Linked DNA regions of Homo sapiens: region 1 is linked to region 2. The links come from fine-mapping of genetic effects on gene expression. A gene starts in region 2. The other region holds a variant in brackets. All regions are shown on one strand. Distances are from middle to middle. Region 1 overlaps SYT7 (synaptotagmin 7). Region 2 holds the start of SAXO4 (stabilizer of axonemal microtubules 4).

Evidence for each region. PIP is the estimated chance that this variant, and not a neighbour inherited with it, causes the effect.
Region 1: its variant is the best candidate, but not a certain one, in a credible set for the expression of SAXO4 in gastroesophageal junction (GTEx, PIP 0.87).

Annotation. Positions count from the first base shown.
Region 1 is chr11:61,511,581-61,515,959 of GRCh38, forward strand. SYT7 (synaptotagmin 7) reads right to left here. Exons shown (of 13, transcript NM_001365809.2): 13 at 2,134-4,379. Among named protein-coding and RNA genes, the nearest start is that of LRRC10B, 5.0 kb to the left of the region's middle. RefSeq lists an enhancer at 1,261-1,874. The variant G/A (reference allele first, on the strand shown) is at 2,378.
Region 2 is chr11:61,478,550-61,482,928 of GRCh38, forward strand. SAXO4 (stabilizer of axonemal microtubules 4) reads left to right here and starts at 2,571. Exons shown (of 14, transcript NM_145017.3): 1 at 2,571-2,667; 2 at 3,233-3,369; 3 at 3,762-3,879; 4 at 4,106-4,259. The coding sequence starts at 3,261. RefSeq lists an enhancer at 4,008-4,302.

The DNA of each region.
Region 1 (4,379 bases), 33 kb after region 2:
GCCAGAAGGTCAGGCCCTGCCCAGCAGCTCTGCTGGCACACTGGGCTGGGCCCTGGCTAAGGAGGAGGCTGGGCATGGGTCTGGGGCTGTCAGCTTGCAAATGAGAGTGAAGGCCTTGAACGGACAGAAAGAGGTGGTGGGTGGGGAAGATTGGAGACTGCCACCTTCCCAAGGAGGAAGAGGGTCTGGGGCCTGGCTGCTGTAGACCTTGTCCCTCCCAGAGTTCCCCCTGTTGGGGTTCCATCAGGGCCAGTGGGCCTTTCAGGGGTCTGGAAACTTGGAGAAAGTAATTTGAGAGAAGATCACTCAGGTGGGGTAGGAGCTGCAGCTGACTGGGGACTCTCCTCTTGACCTGCCACTTGTATCACAGCATAGGGAAAATACCCCTGGGCCTACAATCAGAAGGCAGGGGTTGCAGGCCTGGTTCTGCTATTGACCAAGTGATCTTGAGCAAGTCACGACCCCCCTGGGCCTTAGCTTCTTCGTCTGTACACGAAGAGTTGGGTTTATTTATTTATTTACTTTACTTTTATTTTATTTTCCAAGATGGAGTCTCTCTCTGTTGCCCAGGCTGGAATGCAGCAGCATGATCTTGGCTCACTGCAACCTCAGTTTCCCAGGTTCAAGCAGTTCTCCTGTCTCAGTCTCCTGAGTAGCTGGGATTACAGGTGTGCACCACCACGCCCGGCTGATTTTTTTGTATTTTTAGTAGAGACGGGGTTTCACCATGTTGGCCAGGCTGGTCTCGAACTCCTGACCTCAGGTGATCTGCCTGTCTCGGCCTCCCAAAGTGCCGGAATTACAGGCGTGAGCCACTGCACCTGGCCCAAGGAATTGGGTTTATTTAGATCTGATGCTGCAGCTCAATACTTCATGCAAGGGGTTTGTTTACCTTCCTTTCATGCAAATCTTAGACACAGAAGCAGCAGGGTGCAGAGGCAGCCATGGTCACCTGCAATAACTGCTGTCATTAGTGAGCTCAGGTCTCCTCCCTCTGTCTGATCTGTTTCCCTGTACCTCCTCCCCTGCTGCTCTCACCTGAGGACTCTAGGTTGGGGCAAAGTCCTGGCAATGAGTCCCCCGGGCCATCCTGAGGCACTCAGGGCCTTACCCTTTTGCTTTGTCAAACGTGGCACCCGCAGCCATGACTGCTTGCCAGCTGAGCAGGCGCTCCCCCAGGGAATGGGAATGGGCTCTGTCCCTGGCCCTGCTACTCACTTGCTCTCCACCCTCAGAAGCCAGTCCCTTCTGGAAAGTTTGAGTTTGGCTAAATTGGGTGCTGATGCTACAGAGCACGATTGAGGGTCTCTGTCTCCATGTGAGTAGGGAGGGAGCTAACTGCCAGGGAAAACTGGGTGTCACGGCTCCCCTCGGTGATGGAGATAGCACTGTATTAGGAGTCCTAGCATTCCCCCACCCACAACTTCCTGTGATTCCCACTTGGCCTCTGGGGAGTAGGGGGCAGGGGAGACTGGAAGGGACGCTTGTAACAATGGGACGGGATGGATGGGCTGCCTCTGCGGTTCCCCACATCGTCCTGGGGCAGTCAGAGGTGGGCAGGCCATGGGGGAATAGGGCAGGGAAGTTCTGCAAGAGTCATGTTTGTACCAGGGATTCAGGGGCAGAGGCCAAGGGCGCTGGTGGTCAGAGCAAGAAGCTTCCTTCCTACTGTGGGAACCAAGTGGAGGGAAAGGCAGAGGAGGCGGCAGGGCAAGAAACAGGGTTGGGGGGGGTGTGGGCGCGAGTGACTCACCCGTAAGCGGTGTGAGGACTCCCAACCCAGTGCTCACTGTGTCACAGAAGAGCTGCTTGGTCCCTGGCTGGCAGTCAGGTCTGTGAGTGGAATGGAATGGCTGAGAACTGCGCCTGTTCTTGAGGCCCCCGCCCCCACCAGCCTCCAGGCAAGCAGCCCTGCTGGCCAGTGTGGCAGCAGAGACCCAGGCCTGGAGCCTTTTCTAACCTTGTGAATGCCATTCCTCACCCCCTTCCCACCCACCCTCATGGGACTCAGGAAAGTGGGAGAACAGGTTCTTGGAGCTGGGGGCCCTACCCAGAAGTCCCTCCCTGCCTCCCATGCCACCACACTGGCTTACTCAGCCATCTGTCCCAAAGCTTCCCCAAGACACCTGGCGATCTTGTTCTGAAGATGAACGTTTATTAGCACACCTGGGCGTGCCACATGGAACATGTATGCAGACAGGGATCCCTGCCCAGGGGGCTCACAATCTACACAAGACACGACACATACACGCAGGACACAGACACGGGGAGCGGGGCGTCTTCACGGGAAACAGATGGTCTGGGGAGCCACGAGCTGGGGCATCGGCGTGCTCAAGGCTTGTCCTTCTGGTTGTCTTTGCGTGGGAGGGAGAGGAGC[G/A]CAGGACGTAACCCAGGACAGCCTTCCAGAAAGCAGCAGTATCCAGGGGGGGACTCACAGGAGAAAGAAAACACCAGAGGGCGGTGGTCCCAGGTACAGGGAGGGGTGGGGGAGCATCTCAGAGCAGGCATGGACGAAGACAGACCCAGAGAAGCAAAAATGGAGGAAGGCAAAAAGTCCAGGGAAGGGCCCGAGCCAGTGGCAAGGGACTGCCCCCTGTGCTGGGCCTGAGCTGTCTCTGACTTCAGGCTCAGTTTTCCAGGGCTGCTTTCATGGAGAGCGCCTGAACAGAAGCTCTGGCCAAGGGAGCCCCTGAGGCTACTTACCTGACCCCGGGGCTTCCTCTGATCTCTGGAACAGAGATCAGAAGTGATATCTAAACCAGGTTGTGGGAAATGAGGGACAGACAGCTTTGGATGGGGTACTTAGTGCAGCTCCGGGAGGCAGCTGCTGGCCCCAAGTGCTGGGAGCAGAGGGCGGATGGGATGGCCCGCTTCACTCCTGGTGGGGGCAGGGGCCAGCAGGTGGACACATGACAATGGGGATGTGCTCGTTCCTTTTGTGCCTGTGTCTGAACCAGATGTAGCACCTTCCTTCTGAAGTACCCTGAGAGCTGCGGGGGCTCAGCTTCCCCTGGGCTGGGTGGGGAAGAAAGGGCAGGGGATGGGGATGGTTATTGCTTTGTTGTGGCCAGAAGAAACAGGTGGAAGGAAAGAGCTTGCCCAGGGCCACAGAGGCTGCAGAAGGGATTACAACCCAGCTTCCCACACCTCAGGCTGGAACCTGTTCTATTGAGTGGAAGAGACTTTTCTAATCCTAAAGAATGAAACTAGAAGAGGGCTGAGAGAAGCCGCAGGTCCAGCCAACAGACACAGAGCTCATTGTCTTTCCTTTTCCCACCTCAGGGACCAGGAAGGAGGCGCTGGCCTGAAACTACAGTGGCCCCATGGATGGTGGTGGGAAAGCTGGAGCGTCCCCCTTTGGTTTGTCTGAGCTGCCTTGGAGGGTGGCAAGTGTCCTCTGGGAACTGAGGGAGGGGACGTCAGGCTGGGTGACCCTGGAGGGCACCCCTGAGGCCTAGAGAGGACTCTACTCCCAAAAAGCCTTGTGTCAGGCCTGATCTGGGAGATGTAGCTGCCTCTCTGCTTTCTGGGAAGCCAGTGGGATCATATTCTATAGAGATCTGAGGATGGCTGGACACTCGGGAAGGGCCTGGTCACCAGTGAAGTCAAATCCCAAAGGTGACACACTGAGGGGAGGCTCAGCCCCGGGGCCCCCATCCCCTTCACCCCACTGCCTCTGCCCCCAGGGAGGTGAGGGAGGGCTGGGACCCACGGAGGAAACAGCCAAGGCCCTACTTTTTCACGATCCTTTATTAATCAGAACAGGCCTTGCCACAAAAAGCAGGGCCCATTCCCACAAAAATATGATTTTGCAAAGAGGAAATCTTGCTGGCTTAGAGGGTATGTGTGGTGGAAAAATTTTGTATGGTTCTTTTTTTCCTGTTTTTTTTTTTTCTTCAGTTTTTCTTCATTTCTCTTCGCTGCAAAATTTTTTTTTTTGTGATGGTGGGTTTTTGTTTTATTTTTTATAAAACACTTGCACTCAAGAACATACAAACAGTGGCCACCAATCCCCACCCCTGGGGCTCCGGGGAGCCCCCCTGGCTTGTTTGTGGCTGTTTTCCTCTGTCCCTTCCCTGGCATCTGGTGCCAGAGGGCAGGTGCGGGGGTCCTGGGGCGGGTGGAATTTGTACAGCACTTTCATGGGGAGATGGTCACAAGAAAGGAAACCAGGACAAGATAAGGACTAAGTCTAGGGCACCCACAAAGATGGCAGACGAAGCCCATGAAAGGGCCTGCGACAGAGTGAAGAGACGGATGGGCCTGCGTTGGCCTCAGCTAGCTCTGGAGGCTCTGTGGGGGAGGGGCAGGTGGGCCTTGCAGTCAGGATTCGGTAATTACACTTTGCTCACGGGTAGCACCTTCGGAGTCCTCCTGCC
Region 2 (4,379 bases):
CCTACCGTGTGCCAGGTACTGGGCTAAATGCTTCGTGCGTACCACAACCCTGCAGGTAGTTACCATTATTATACTCATTCTCCAGAAGGGGAAACTGAGGCACAAGGAACATGCACTGTCTTACGGTTATCTAGTGGCAGAGACAGGACCCACACCATCTGGCTTCAGAGTCCAAGCTCTTGCTCGTAGCCACTTATCCAGGCACACTTAGAGGAGGGCCCCTCTCTCCCTTCACCCTGTGAGCACCTCACCTATGGTGGTCTCACCCTTTGTGCTTCGTGTGTGGAACTCCCACGAGCCTCTGTAGTAGAATGGGAGCACTTTGCTGGAGGGCAGGGCTGTGTGCACTCACTCCTGTGTCCTTGTGCCCTGTGATCCCTGAACAGAATCGTTAGTCCGGAGGGTGGGTGCCAAACGTGCTTCAGCTTGCCTTCCCATGGGGGGCTGGGTGAGGACACGAGTGAGCCTCCACCCTGGCAGGCCAGGTCACTACAGGATGAATGCGGCAAGGGCATCTCCTGGGTGAGGAAAGGAGATGCCTCCTTTCCCTTTATTCAGCCTTCATTCATACCTCACTCTCCCCTGAGAGCAGGGGTGCTCTGAAGCCAGCTCTACCGGCTCAGGAGAGCTGAAGGCGAAACTTCCAGGAAATTGGCAAGCTGGTTTTTAACTCTGCCATTGTTAAAAATTAAATTACTGGCCGAGCGCGGTGGCTGACGCCTGTAATCCCAGCACTTTGGGAGGCTGAGGCAGGCAGATCACTTGAGCTCAGGAGGTCGAGACCAACCTGGCCAACATAGTGAAACCCCATCTCTACTAAAAATACAAAAATTAGCTGGGCGTGGTGGCGTGCACCTGTAATCCCAGCTACTCAGGAGGCTGAGGCAGGAGAATTGCTTGAACCAGGAGATGGAGGTTGCAGTGAGCTGAGATCGTGCCACTGCACTCCAGCCTGGGGGACAGAGCAAGACTCCATCTCAAATAAATAAATAAATAAATAAATAAATAAATAAATAAATAAATAACTTAAACCTGCAATTTAATGAATTATATTAAAAACAAAAAAAAATACCTAAAACTCATCACCCCTTAATTATGTGAGTACATTTTTCTATTATTTGTGCTGTCGAGGTTACTTACGCCCATTATGTCTGCATGATGGGACTACTCCCGTACAGTGGTGAGCGACCTTCCCATGTCCCGGTTCAAAGACACTGTAGTGGTGGTTTGAAAGCAGCCCTGATGGGACCACTGACATCACAGAAATTGGCAAATGCTGCAAAGTAGGGCTATCCCACCCCACCCAGAGATCTAACTGTTACAACATTTACAAGCCTGAAAGCCAATTTGAGGCAAAAAGGCTGTCATGGAAGAAGATTCTCACTGTGGAGTTTGCGCACTCAGATTTGAGTCCAGGCTCCGTCTCCACCCACTGTGGGGCCTGGGCTATTTCCCCTTGAGCCTCGCCTTTCCTATCTGCAAAATAAGACTAAAAGTACAGCAGCTTTTGCAAATTGAGCATTTGCCGAGTGTGGTGGCTTGCCCCTGCAATCCCAGCAACTCAGGAGGCTGAGGCAGGAGGATCACTTGAGGCCAGGAGTTCAAGACCAGCCTGAGCAACATAGCAAGACGCTGTCTCTACAACAAATAAATACATAAATAAGCAAGTCAGGCAGGGGGGAGCACACCTGTAGTTCTGGCTACTTGAGAGTCTGAGGCAAGAGGATTGCTTGAACTTAGGAGTTGGAGGCTGGACTGAGCTATGATGGTACCTCTGTACTCCAACCCAGGTGAGAGCATAAGATCCTGTCTCTCTTAAAAAAAAAAAAGAGCATTTACTACCTGTCAGGTGCTGAATCCATGCTCTTGCTAAATCTGCCAGCAGCCCTGTGAGGTGGGTGCAGTCACGTCCCTTGCGAAGATGGGGATTTGGGGGCGTGAAGAGGATAAGTACCTCATCAAAGGTGACAGATCAGATTTGAACCACACTCTTAACTGCTGCGGTTTATTGGCCCTACAATAATAGTGCCCAGTTCACAGGGTGGTTTGGGGGATTACACGACGTAATGTGTGTTAAAGGGCTTAGCACAGATTCAGCTCCAGAGGAACATAGTAAATGTTGATTTACCGAGAGGCAGAAGAGCGGGATCCACATCCACCCACGTTTGAATCTCAACTTGGCTATTTTCTGATTGCGAGATCTCTGGAGTCAAGTCATTTTGCTTATCTAAGCCTCATGTTCCCCCAGTGAAAATGGGGATAATCATAGCTACTGAAGAGCTGCTCAGAGGATGGAGATAGAGGATGTAAAGTATCTGCCGAGAAGTGGGTACTTTATGGGAGTGAGTGTTCGGGATTATCTTTTATTTTATGTCACGCAGACAGCAACTCTTCCCAGCCCTGTGGAGGAGGCCGGAGGTTGGGGCCGGAGCCCTGGAAGCAGGGCCTTGCTCGGGCAGCTTCTGACCCTCCCCTCCTGGCCAGGTCAGCCCCTCAGTGGGCCCTGGCCCTAGAAGGTCTCAGAAGCCTGGGGACGCTGTTGCTAGGCACCAGTTGCTAGGCTACACATTGTTTCTCCTGCTTGGCCTCCTCCAGGAGGGCTGGCTTCTCTGCAGAGCTCTGCTTCCTGCAGCCTCTCCCCGACCTCAGAGCCTCTGCAGAGGAAAGGTGAGGGTGGGGCCGCTGTGGTTGGGCCTCGGGGAGAGTGCAGCCAATTCCCAGGGGAGGCAGGCAAGGCCAGAGGCGGGCAAGGCCATGGAGATGAGGGAGAGAGAGGAGCCGGGGGCTGGGAGTGAGCGCCTCGGCCTGACTTCTTGGGTGGGGGCCAAGAATTCCCCAGGTAGTGGGTTGTCGGCTCATTCATTCCGAGAGGTGGGTATGTAAGGTTCAGGTCAGGGGCCGAGTAGTCAAACACCTAGGTCTGAATCCCAGCACTACCACCTATTATGGAGCAAATCCTTTATCACTTGGAACCTCACTGTCCCAGTGGTAAATGGGGACAGGAAGAGTTAATAAGAAGGTGTGGGAAAGTGAGAGGAGACATGAGGACTCTTGGGATAAGTGTGGATGATCGGTTTCGTCCTTAGTTTAGGGACTTGGGAGCTGGGGCAGAGAGACAGAGGCCTGGGAGAAGGGGCCAGCTGCGTTGTGGGTGGTGGGGGGCAGATCTTCGCCCCTGTGGGCTTCCGAGCCAGGCTTGGGACCCATGAGGCTCCCCGTGCTTCCTTTCTAGGCCCCCTGGGGCCCTGCCCCACAGCATCATGATGGGGAAACTCCCCCTGGGGGTCGTCTCCCCTTATGTGAAGATGAGTTCGGGGGGCTACACGGACCCCCTGAAATTCTACGCCACCAGCTACTGCACCGCCTACGGTGAGGGTGCCTTTGCGCAGGAGCCTCTGCTAGGACATGGGCAGGAAGGGAGGGGCTCTCTCTGAGGGAGGAGCAGACCCTCTGGCTGTCACACTGCAGAGCAACTGCTGAATCCGTTTGTCCCCTGGGCCCTGCCCGGCTGCTCCCTTCTCTGGTTCTGTCCCTGCAATTCTGTCACTGTGATTCTGCCACACTGACCTTGTCCCCAGCCCACCCACTCCATTTCCTGCCATCACAGTCCTGAAAGGGCAGGCTTGCAAAGCTCCTGCCCGTGGCTCTGAGCCCTCCCCTGTCACTGTGACCCCTGTGCCCCTCGGAGGACGCTGGCCCTGCCTGGGAAGCCCTGCCTGTTTTTGACCTTGGGGTCTGTCTCCCCGTTACCCCTCTGGCAGGTCGGGAGGATTTCAAGCCCCGTGTGGGCAGTCACGTAGGCACCGGCTACAAATCAAATTTCCAGCCCGTGGTCTCATGCCAAGCCAGTCTGGAGGCCTTAGACAACCCGGCCAGGGGGTACGGTCTGTATGGCCCCTTCCCAGCCCCTGCCCTGCTCATCAGACCAACTCCAGGTTCCTTGGATGGGGACCCTGAGCTTTGCCTGCCCTAGGCTGGGGGTCCTGGGTGACTCAGGGCACAGCGGACCTCTGAGCCATCTGTGGGAGGGTGCAGGGAGGAGGGAAGCTCCTTAGCAGAGGACAGAGGCAGGCGGCCTGGGGTTCTAGCTCCTCCTCACCCTCAGGGAACAAGCCCAGGACCATTTCCAGTCTGTGGCCAGCCAGAGCTACCGCCCCCTGGAGGTGCCTGACGGCAAGCATCCCCTGCCCTGGAGCATGCGCCAGACCAGCTCAGGCTATGGGCGGGAGAAGCCCAGTGCGGGTCCCCCCACCAAGGAGGTCAGTGCTGGGCCAGGGCCAGGAGAGGGAAGCCTCAGGGTGGGGTGGGGCTAGGGCTGCACTGCCAACAGTTGGTCAAGGTGGAGGTGACAGGGCATGGAGCAGCCACCTTGTAGGGAT